Linked DNA regions of Homo sapiens: regions 1, 2 and 4 are each linked to region 3. Evidence: fine-mapped expression QTL. A gene starts in region 3. Each other region holds a variant in brackets. All regions are shown on one strand. Distances are from middle to middle.

Region 1 (2,685 bases), 44 kb after region 3:
GTGGTTGCAGCAGGCACTATTTGCTCCCCAGTTTCTGATTGTCCAGGAATGATTCACATGAGTTTTACTGATTGGCCCCTCTGCCTCTCATCCTGTGGTGGACACCTGAGTAGGGGACAGAGGGCACCATGGAATGAGCACAGCTGTGGCTCAGAGGGACCTGGTTTTGAACCCTGGCTCATGGTTCCGTGACTTTGGGAAAGTCATATTCCTTCTTTGGCCTTGGTTTCCTCATTAGCAAAATGGGACAACAGCATGTACTTCCTAAGACAAACTGTGTAAAATGCCTGGCATTGGGCAGGCAATTAATACATGTCTGTTCCTTTCCTTTGCCATGTTTTCACTTAGCAGCGATTTATCCGGGGCCTAGCATGTAGCAGCCACATGTGCTCAGCACCAGGATCACAGTGGTGAACAAAATCACAGATGTGGAGACTGGCTGCCCTCATGGAGCTTGGGGCAGACATTCAGTAAACAAAGGCATGTCCTGAAGGAAAAGTAATGTCTTACTAAAAAGAATCATTGATGACAGCCTTCAAATAGAGTGGTCACGGAAGGCCTCTTGGGAAAGGTAACATTTAAGCTGAGATCTAAAGTATGAGAATGAGCCAGGCATTTGGGAAAGCAGTGCCGGGAGGAGGCTAAAGAACACAGGCTTTACAGCCAGATGTATATGGGTTTTGAATCCTGTTTCCTCTATTTATTTAGCTGTGGGACTTTAGGTGAGTGTCTTCACCTCTCTGGGCCTTGGTTTTATCTTTTGTGAAATGTGGCTAAAAATACCCACTTTATAGAATTGTGAGGATGAAACTCAATCGTGCATACAAAGTACCCTGCATGGAGTCTGGCACATGGTGAGCACCTGTGAAAATCAGCTCCCCTCTTGTCCCAGTTTGAGACTGTCAAGTGTACAGCATAGACACAATGCATGCACATGTGTGCACACACATTCACACTCACACTTGAAACACATATAGATATGCAGGCAGAACATAGATAGCTCTCTCAAGCTGGGTATTTCAGGAGACTTTCATAAAGGGACTCTTTTGTTTTTTTTTTGAGACAGTCTCATTCTGTCATGCAGGCTGGAGTGCAGTGGTGCAATCTCTGCTCAATGCAACCTCCTCCTCCTGGGTTCAAGTGATTCTCCTGCCTCAGCCTCCCAAGTAGCTGGGATTACAGGCACCCATCACCACACCCAGCTAATTTTTGTATTTTAGTAGAGACGGGGTTTCACCATGTTGGCCAGGCTGGTCTCAAACTCCTGACCTCAAGTGATCCGCCTCCCTTGACCTCCCAAAGTGCTGGAATTACAGGCGTGAGCCACTGTGCCCGGCCATGAAGGGACTGTTTTTTTTTTTTTTTTTTTTT[G/TTTG]AGATGGAGTCTCGCTCTGTTGCCCAGGCTAGAGTGTGGTGGCACAATCTCAGCTCACTGCAACCTCTGCCTCCTGCGTTCAAATGATTCTCCTGCCTCAGCCTACCAAGTAGTTGGGATTACAGGTGCGCAACACAATGGCCAGCTAATTTTTTGTATTTTTAGTAGAGAAAGGGTTTCACTGTGATGGCTGAGCTGGTTTCGAACTCCTGACCTCAAGTGATCCACCCGCCTCGGCCTCCCAAAGTGCTAGGATTACAGGCGTGAGCCACCGCGCCTGGCCCATAAAGCGACTCTTTACAAAGAGTCCCTTTGGCAGGGTTTGGGGAGAGTAACAAGAGATAGTGCAGACCCTGAGGGTTAGTAACAGGGTGAGGAAGGGGGCAGTTAGCAGAACTGAGATGATAGCTGTGTGGAGACAGCTATCACGGGCTGGGACCTTCAGAAGAGGGATGCAGCCAATGTATAGGAACTCGACAGGGAGAGGGCCCGGGAAGGAATATTCTGGCTTCTGCCTCCTCTTGCCTCTGATCTCCCGCTAAGCTCCCATTGGCCAAACTCAGTTGGAAGCCAGGGTGCATGGAAGCCTGTGGATGCACCCCAAAAGGATCAGCCTCCCAGAGTAGAAAAGGCTGGAGTGGATCTGGAGAGACAGGTAGAAGAGTTACAGCATGCTCTCCACTTCCACTGGCCTCTTTAGAATGCCAGAAGTGACAGATATACCCATTGTAAAGTGGCGTAAGTCAAAAAGAAAAACCCTCGGTCACCTAACCGGAAACTCCAGGGGTAGGGCCTTAGGCAGAGCTTCATCAGTGCTCAAATGATAGCCGGCAATCAGGTTCTCATCAACTCTTAGTTCTATGTTCCTTTGTAGGTTAACTTCAATCTCAGGCTACATATGGTGGCAAGATGGTGGCGGTAGAGAGTAAAGAAGAGGGTGGCCCCCGAAGCAAAGCCGTTGTTCTTTACAAAGGAGAGTGAATAAAAGCAGGGTGGAAATGTTACACATGTTCACTACAGTGTACCTCGGAGAGCTCATGGCCCATAAACTCAGGCAAGAGGGATTGAGATCACTGAGGCCGCGGTGAGCAGGGTCCCCTGCTTGGCTATAGTCTGTTTGGGGATGACTCAGACTGTCTTGAAAACACGTGGGCTGTCCGTTCCCACCTCTGCACTGAAGGGACCTGAAAGATTACTTAGCCCAGCAAAAAGACGAGATTTGTACAAGACCATGTAGTTAATGTCAAGGCCAGGACTTGAACCCAGGTCGCACAATCTGTCCTCCACACATGACTTGAAAGAAAGAAAGAAAGA
Region 2 (2,685 bases), 44 kb before region 3:
CATGTCATAACCAAGTTTATCATCTCCAGGTTTCAAATTAATTTCCTTTAAGTGTAGTTGACTCTATTTAAGGAAATTGAAGACCATGTTAAATAATTTACAAGACAGGTTTTAGTGTTCTGTTCAGTCTTACATAGGAATTGTTCTATTAATTTAGGGCATATTTTAAGTGCAACAGCATTTCACTGTGATTTTTGTTCGTTTGTTTTTAATTAAAAATAGAGACAGGGTTTTACCATGTTGCCCAGACTGGTCTTGAACTCCTGGGCTCAAGCGATCTGCCTGCCTTGTCCTCCCAAAGTGCTGGGGTTACAGGTGTGAGCTACCACGCCCAGCCTTATTGTGCTGTTTTAAAGACCAGAGAATGAAAAATTTTAAATCGTTGCACCATCTTTGTTTATTCAGTTATTTAGGATATGTCTGATCTTCTATTTTTATCACAGGCAACTTCAGAGTGGACGTTGGATTACCCCCCTTTCTTTGCATGGTTTGAGTATATCCTGTCACATGTTGCCAAATATTTTGATCAAGAAATGCTGAATGTCCATAATTTGAATTACTCCAGCTCAAGGACCTTACTTTTCCAGAGATTTTCCGTCATCTTTATGGATGTACTCTTTGTGTATGCTGTCCGTGAGTAAGTCTGGAGCATGTCATTTTGTATGGAAGGTATTGAAAAAATAGTACAGTGTTAAGTAGTATTAACTTACTCCCAATTTAGGAGGAACAAAGTTTATATGATAGCAAATGCTAAAACAATGAAAAATTGTATTGTGCTTTAAACTACATGTTTAAAGCACTCTAGCTGAATCTTGTGGAAGAAATGGGGATAAGGTGGAGTTACAAGGCAGAGGTAGAACAAGAGATTATGAATGTTGTGAAAAGAAGTAGTCCCAAGTATAGTTCTAGGGCCATTTCTCCCACCCAGAATAGCTCCATATGTTTTTCTTTGCTTCCTTGCAGCAGGCCGCCAGAGGCTTCCATCACCTACCCTATCTTAGGGTATGCACACAGTACATGCACAGTAGCGCACACGTATGGATTGTGCTAACCACCAAAGTCTGCTTTTACGGAGCTTTCATTCTAGTAAACTCAAGAAATTTCACTGAGTGCTTTTAGTTGTTTCCATATACTTTCCTTCATGAAGACTCTTTGTTATTTTAAGTTATGCTTATATTTTAAATTTTTATGTTTTACAACTTTTACTTATAAGTTAATTTTAAGTATTGAATACACATATATAGAATGTCTTGCACAGTGACTTCCAAGTACTAAGTTTCAGTTAATGTCAGTTTCCATTCTTTCCTAATTCTTTTTTTTCTTTTTTTTTTTTTTTTTTTTTCTTTTTTTTCCCTGAGATGGAATCTTGCTCTGTCGCCCAGGCTAGAGTATTGTGGCGCGATCTCGGCTCACTGCAACTGCCTCTCGGGTTCAAGCAGTTCTCCTGCCTCAGCCTCCCAAGTAGCTTGGATTACAGGTGCACACCACCATGGCAGGCTAATTTTTGTATTTTTAGTAGAGACAGGGTTTCACCATGTTGGCCAG[G/A]CTGGTCTTGAACTCCTGACCTCGTGATCCACCCGCCTCGGCCTCCCAAAGTGCTGGGATTACAGGCATGAGCCGCTGCACCGACCTCATTCTTTCCTAACTCTTAAGCTCGCTGGTGTGATTGTGACAGAACAGTGACTGGTGTTCATTCAGTGACCCTTGTCATAAATGGATCGTTTCTGTTTGTGAGGCCCTCTACACTGAACCCTTGCCCCACTCAGTAAAGAGTCCCTTGGGAATGTCTTTAACCCTTGCGCATTCTCATTGAATAATCCTGTTTGAAACCCTTCCTTTCAATCTGTTTATGACCTGGCAAGAGTTGAAAGGGAAGGTAATTTTTAATATACTCTTTTTAACTCAAAATGTTTGAATTCAAGCTTCCAGGGGAAGAGTATACAAGCACAAAGGGAGAGGAAATAGAATTCATTTCCATCTGCAAAGTAGAGGGAATAGTTAAAAAGATTGTTGAAAGGCCAGGCATAGTGTCTCATGCCTTTAATCCCAGCACTTTGGGAGGCCAAGGCTAGTGTATTGCTTGAGCTCAGGAGTTTGAGACCAGCCTGGATAACATGGTGAAACCCTGCCTCTACTAAAAATACAAAAATTAGCCAGCTGTGGTTGCCGGGGACTGTTGTCCCAGCTACTTGGGAGCCTGAGGCAGAGGATCTCTTGAACCTGGGTGGTCAAGGCTGCAGTGAGCTGTGATTACGCCACTGCACTCCATCCTAGGCGACAGACTGAGACCCTGTCTCAAAAAAAAAAAAAAAAAATTGAAATCTCTGTGTCAGTTCCCAGAACCAAGCATGATATACAGATTATTAACTTATTTAATTTTCTCAGTGACCCTGTAAGTTTACTGCCTCTATTCATGAGGGAACTGAGGCTCCATAGGGCGAAAGGAGGATACCTTTGCTAGTCCCCCTTTAATTGCATCTATTATTTGTTTTAGATTTATTGTTAAAATTTGCCACTCTTCAAATGTAGCACATTTTCAATATCGTCTTTTTATAGAATAATACATCCCCATTGTAAAAACTTTGGAAAAGCACACACACATGCAAAGTAAAAATGAGTCATACTCCCCCACGTATACTAATCACTATTAACATTTTGGTGTATGTTAGTTCAGTCTCTTTTCTG
Region 3 (2,685 bases):
TATTGTTAGCAGGGGAGGGGGTCACAAGGTACATGATGGGGAGATCATAAGACTTATTGTCCAGAAGAAGAATGTCACAAGGATGGTTGATCAGTTAAGGTAGGGCAGGGACCAGTCACAATGGTGGAATGTTTGTTAATCAGTTAAGGCAGGAAGTGGCTGTTTTACTTCTTTTGTGGGTTTTTGGCTGCCCCAGACTTCTTGGCTCCCGCAGGCCATCTGGACGCATATGTGCAAGTCACAGGGGTTACAATGGTTGAGCTTCGGCTGAGAGGCCTGACAGCAGAGACTGGAAAATTGCTTAACAGAATTATAAATTCCTTCTTTCATTACTCAAACCTTTTTTTTTTTCTTTTTGAGACGAAGTTTCGCTCTTGTTGACCAGGCTGGAATGCAATGGTGCGATCTCGGCTCACTGCAACCTCCACCTCCCAGGTTCAAGCGATTCTCCCCCCTCAGCTTCCCGAGCAGCCGATTATGCTGCCTCAGCCTTCCCAGTAGCTGGGACTACAGGCACCCGCCACCACGCCCAGCTAATTTTTTGTATTTTTCGTAGAGATGGGATTTCACCATGTTGGCCAAGCTGGTCTTGAACTCCTGAAGTGATCCGCTCACTTCAGCCTCCCAAAGTGATGGGATTACAGGCGTGAGTGACGGCGCCTGGCCTCATTACTCAAACCTTTAGGGAACACCTCCTCACTCAGCCATGTGTAACGACGTGAAGACCCAGAGGTGAAACATTTTAGGGTGCTGCCTCCGAATCTGAATTTCAACAATAGACTAAAACGATCCAGTCCTGGGCTTCTCTAAATTCTTTTGTTGCTGGCCAGACCTTAATTTTAGGCTTTGGAGGGAGTGTCTATGCGAATGAACGACTGAAAACTCAGAAAACGAAAACTAGCTTTTATGGAATTTCAATTAATTACGTTTATCAAAACTACGCATCATGCCCATTTGTGGGTATTGGATGAAAAGATAAATCTTTCCAGAAGGGGCAGGGGAGGGAGAGGCAATTCTGGTTGGGGAAGTTGGGAGAAAAGAAAATCAGTATCTCCTAGTCTTCGCCCAGTTTGGCTCGTTTGGGGTACTCCTCGACCCCGCGTTACCAGGCCCGTGAATCCCACTCCCACCAGAGAATTAGCGCGGGCGGACGAGCAAAGTGAAACTTAGTAGCCCGGAACTTCGCGTGCCGGGTTCCCGCAGCAACACGTACCGGGAAGCGTTTGGGCGCTGCACCGCGCTGCGCCGTGCCCGTGAGTCCGGCGCGCAGAGGAGGAGGAGAAAGCTGACCGCTTAGGCCGGGGTAGTGGTCGTCGTGGTTTTCCTTGTAGTTCGTGGTCTGAGACCAGGCCTCAAGTGGAAACGGCGTCACCATGATCGCACGGCGGAACCCAGAACCCTTACGGTTTCTGCCGGATGAGGCCCGGAGCCTGCCCCCGCCCAAGCTGACCGACCCGCGGCTCCTCTACATCGGCTTCTTGGGCTACTGCTCCGGCCTGATTGATAACCTAATCCGGCGGAGGCCGATCGCGACGGCTGGTGAGTGCTGCGCGGCCGGGATCGGCTGGGAGGAGAAGGGGTCGTAGGGCTGCAGACTGGCCCGGCCGTAGGCCCCCCTGAGGTGCTCTGCTTTTCCGTGCCTTTTTGCCTAGCTGGCCCCATCTCGCCTTTCCGGGGAGTCCGCGCCCCATTAGCTCTTTAGAATCAAGCAGAGCCAGAGTGTCATTTGGCACTTGAAGAAACTGAGGTGCAGTGAAGCAGGAACTGAGTCTGTGAAGGACCCGAAACTACTCTCCTCAGTTCGTGTTGTGCTGTGTGCGCAAATGAGCCATGACTCCATGCCATGCACTACTCACACTGTGGGCATTATTGATAGCATTTCGGCCTTAAAACACTTTTAGGGATGTATTATTCACAACGAGGAAACCGAGCCTAACAGATTAACAGCAGCTTGCCCAAGGTCATATGGCTATTAAGTAGCAGAGCTTGGTTTTTTTTTTTTTTGACCTCTGAATGGATATTGGACACCAGTGCTTCTCAAACTTAATGTGCATACGAATAGCATAGGTGTCTTGTTAAAATTCGGATTCTGGGCTGCGCGAGGTGGCTCACACCTGTAATCCCAGCGCCTTGGGAGGCCGTGGCGGGCGGATCGCCTGAGCTCAGGAATTCGATACCAGTATGGGCAATAGGGCGAAAACCCGTCCCTACAAAAAAATACAAAAGTTAGCCGGGCGTGGTGGTGCACGCCTGTGGTCCCAGGCTGAGGGAGGCTGAGGCAGGAGGGTCGTTTGAGCCTGGAAGGCAGAGGTTGCAGTAAGCCGAGATTGCACCATTGCACTCCAACCTGTGCAACAAAGTGAGACCCTGTCTCAAAAAAAAAAAAAAAGCGGATCCTGATTCATGAGGTCTGGGGAGGAACTTGATGTTAACAACAAGCGCTCAAACACTGCTGCTGCTGGTCTGAGGACCACGGTTTGAATAGGAGGCTCTAAACCAGTGTGCTGTACTTCCCAGTAGTATGTCACTGGCTTCCTATCAGAGACACTGACTATTCTGATAATAACCACCACAGTAGCTTTGCTAAGCTCTATGGATTTCCAGAGGGAAAAGAGGAGAGGAACTTTGGAAGAGGGGTCTTTGAAGTTAACTTTGATTATCAGGCAGGACTGAGAGACAGACAGC
Region 4 (2,685 bases), 130 kb after region 3:
CAAAAGACTGGGATTATAGGCTGGGTGCGGTGACTCACACCTGTAATTCCAGCACTTTGGGAGGCCAAGGCAGGCGGATCACGAGGTCAGGAGATTGAGACCATCCTGGCCAACATGGTGAAATCCCGTCTCTACTAAAAATACAAAAATTAGCTGGGCATGGTGGCGCACGCCTGTAATCCCAGCTACTCGGGAGGCTGAGGCAGGAGAATCGCTTGAACCTGGGAGGCAGAAGTTGCAGTGAGCCAAGATCACGCTGCTGCACTCCAGCCTGGCGACAAGGGGGAGACTCTCATCTCAAAAAAAAAAAAAAAAGGCTGGGATTATAGATGTGAGCCACTACACCCAGCCAATAATCCTTTTTTTAAATGAGCACATTTCTCATTAAGTTTTTACAGACATTTTGAGAAACTACAGATGGGGCAGTGTGACCTGAATTTAAAACCCCAGAATTTATTTTCCTTTTTCTTTTCTTGAGACAGGGTCTTCCTCTGTTGCTCAGGCAGGAGTGCAATAGTGCAGTCACGGCTCACTGCAGCCTTGACCTGCCGGGCTCAAGCAATCCTTCCACCTCAGCCTCCTGAGTAGCTGGGACTACAGGCATGTGCCACCCTGCCTAGCTAATTTGTATTTTTTGTAGACATGGGGTCTTGCTTTGTGCCCAGGCTGGTCTTGAATTCCTAGGCTCAAGTGATCCTTCTGCCTTGGCCTCCCAAATTGTTGGGATTACAGGTTTAAGCCACTACTCCCAGCCCCAGAATTTCTTAATATAGAAAGAAATAGTTCACTCTCCTGTAGAGAAATAGCCTTTTAGAACTAGAAAGAATCTTAAAACATAATTCTATTAACCCTACTAGGAATTAAGATAGCCGGAGCCTAGAGAAAAAGGAAAACAATAAAAAAAAAGTTTTTCCCATTTATTAAGCACTTGTTATGTCCTAGTTCAGGAGGCTCAAACCCCCAGGCTGTGGACCAGTCCTGGTCCATGGCTTGTTAGGAACCAGGCCACACAACAGGAGGTGAGTGGTAGATGAGCAAGTATTACTGCCTGAGCTCTGCCTGCTGTCAGATCAGCAGCTGCATTAGATTATCATAGGAGTGTGAACCCTATTGTGAACTGAGCATGTGCGGGATCTAGGTTTCATCCTCCTTGTGAGAGTCTAATTCCTGATGATCTGAGGTGGAACAGTTTCATCCTAAAATTACCCTGCTTCACCACTCTTTCTGGTTTCTTCCATGAAACTGAACCCGGATGCCAAAAAGGTGGGGGACCACTATCTTAGATAATTTGAAGGAGGCCCCTTACATATATTTTCTCATTTTCTCTTTACAGTAACCCTGCAGGATAGATGCCATTATCCAGTTG[G/C]GGCATGGTGGCTCATGCCCATAATCCTAGCACTTTAGGAGGCTGAGGTGGGCAGGTCATTTGAGCCCAGGAGTTCAAGACCAGCCTGGGCAACACAGCAAGACCCCATCTCTATTTTTCAAAAAATAAAATTTTAAAAAATTAAAAAAAAATTTTTTTTTTAAAATGCTGTTATCATTTTCTAGATGAGAAAACTGAGGCTCTGAGGAGTTAAGTAAGTTATCCAGCTTATACAGACAGAAAATTGTAGAGTGAGGTCAGATCCTGATCTTGCATCTTTTAGCTTGGTACTTTTCTGTTTTCTTTTTGAGGACTCAGCACATTTATTGAAAATTTTTAACTTTTGTGGCTCACGCCTATAATCCCAGCACTTTGGGAGGCCAAGGCGGGCGGATCACGAGGTCAAGAGATCGAGACCATCCTGGCCAACATGGTGAAACCCCGTCTCTACTAAAAATACAAAAATTAGCTGGGCATGGTGGCACACGCCTCTAGTCCTAGCTACTTGGGAAGCTGAGACAGGAGAATCGCTTGAACCCGGGAGGCAGAGGTTACCCGGGAGGCAGAGGTGCAGTGGCTCACACCTATAATCCCAGCACTTTGGGAGGCCGAAGCGGGCAAATCACTTGAGGTCAGGAGTTCGAGACCAGCCTGGCCAACATGGTGAAACCCCATCTCTACTAAAAATACAAAAACTAGCCTGGTGTGATGACACACACCTGTAGTCCCAGCTATTCTGGAGGCTGAGGTGGGAGGATCACTTGAACCTGGGAGGCAGGGGTTGCAGTGAGCCGAGATTGTGCCATTGCACTCCAGCCTGTGCAAAAGAGCGAGACCCTGTCTCAAAAAAAAAAAAAATTGTTTAACTTTTAAGGGATAAAATTGTTTTGTAATAGAGTGTTGGCCTAATACCCTTATTTTATATCTGTGTTACCTTGTATATGTCACTTGATATTAGTCTCAGTTTCCTCATCTGTTAAGTGGGGTTCTAATATCTCTCATATTTACCTGACAGTGTTGTCATGATGCTCAAATGAGATACAGTCTATGAAAATGTTTATAAACTAAAAAGTACTATACTATGTAGGGTGGGTGGGGGCATAGTATATAAATATATGTGTGTGTAAGTATCTATAAAAATTTGTATACGTGTCACAGCAGGAAAATCTGTGATTCTTTTTGGACACTTCCCCTTTGAGTGCCCCCAGCCCTGCCACTCTTGGTGAGATTGTTGGCTGAATGCTTTGTTTCTGACTGTACTGGACACTGATCCGGTGATAGCTTTAGTCCTGTGACCAGTATTTATGGGAGTATTTGCT

Alleles and levels. Positions count from the first base shown, and alleles are read on the strand shown. Sizes are in standard deviations (SD) of each study's normalised expression. Not every link is listed here.
For the expression in neutrophils of the gene that starts at base 1,256 in region 3, allele G in region 1 goes with a lower level than allele TTTG (large effect, 0.79 SD a copy in BLUEPRINT).

Evidence for each region. PIP is the estimated chance that this variant, and not a neighbour inherited with it, causes the effect.
Region 1: its variant is fine-mapped to the expression of NDUFC2 in neutrophils (BLUEPRINT, PIP 0.95).
Region 2: its variant is fine-mapped to the expression of NDUFC2 in whole blood (TOPMed, PIP above 0.99).
Region 4: its variant is fine-mapped to the expression of NDUFC2 in whole blood (TOPMed, PIP above 0.99).

Annotation. Positions count from the first base shown.
Region 1 is chr11:78,034,531-78,037,215 of GRCh38, reverse strand. The region is part of intron 2 of NDUFC2-KCTD14 (NDUFC2-KCTD14 readthrough); the gene reads left to right. It also overlaps a transcript of KCTD14 not described here. Among named protein-coding and RNA genes, the nearest start is that of KCTD14, 13 kb to the right of the region's middle. RefSeq lists a silencer at 1-173. The variant G/TTTG (reference allele first, on the strand shown) is at 1,372.
Region 2 is chr11:78,121,973-78,124,657 of GRCh38, reverse strand. It overlaps ALG8 (ALG8 alpha-1,3-glucosyltransferase), which reads left to right. Exons shown (of 13, transcript NM_024079.5): 3 at 444-637. Among named protein-coding and RNA genes, the nearest start is that of ALG8, 16 kb to the left of the region's middle. The variant G/A (reference allele first, on the strand shown) is at 1,546.
Region 3 is chr11:78,078,433-78,081,117 of GRCh38, reverse strand. It overlaps NDUFC2 (NADH:ubiquinone oxidoreductase subunit C2), which reads left to right and starts at 1,256. Exons shown (of 3, transcript NM_004549.6): 1 at 1,256-1,539. The coding sequence starts at 1,374. NDUFC2-KCTD14 (NDUFC2-KCTD14 readthrough) reads left to right here and starts at 1,256. Exons shown (of 3, transcript NM_001203262.2): 1 at 1,256-1,539. The coding sequence starts at 1,374. RefSeq lists a silencer at 1,084-1,273 and an enhancer at 1,477-1,536.
Region 4 is chr11:77,953,127-77,955,811 of GRCh38, reverse strand. The region is part of intron 8 of INTS4 (integrator complex subunit 4); the gene reads left to right. Among named protein-coding and RNA genes, the nearest start is that of INTS4, 40 kb to the left of the region's middle. The variant G/C (reference allele first, on the strand shown) is at 1,367.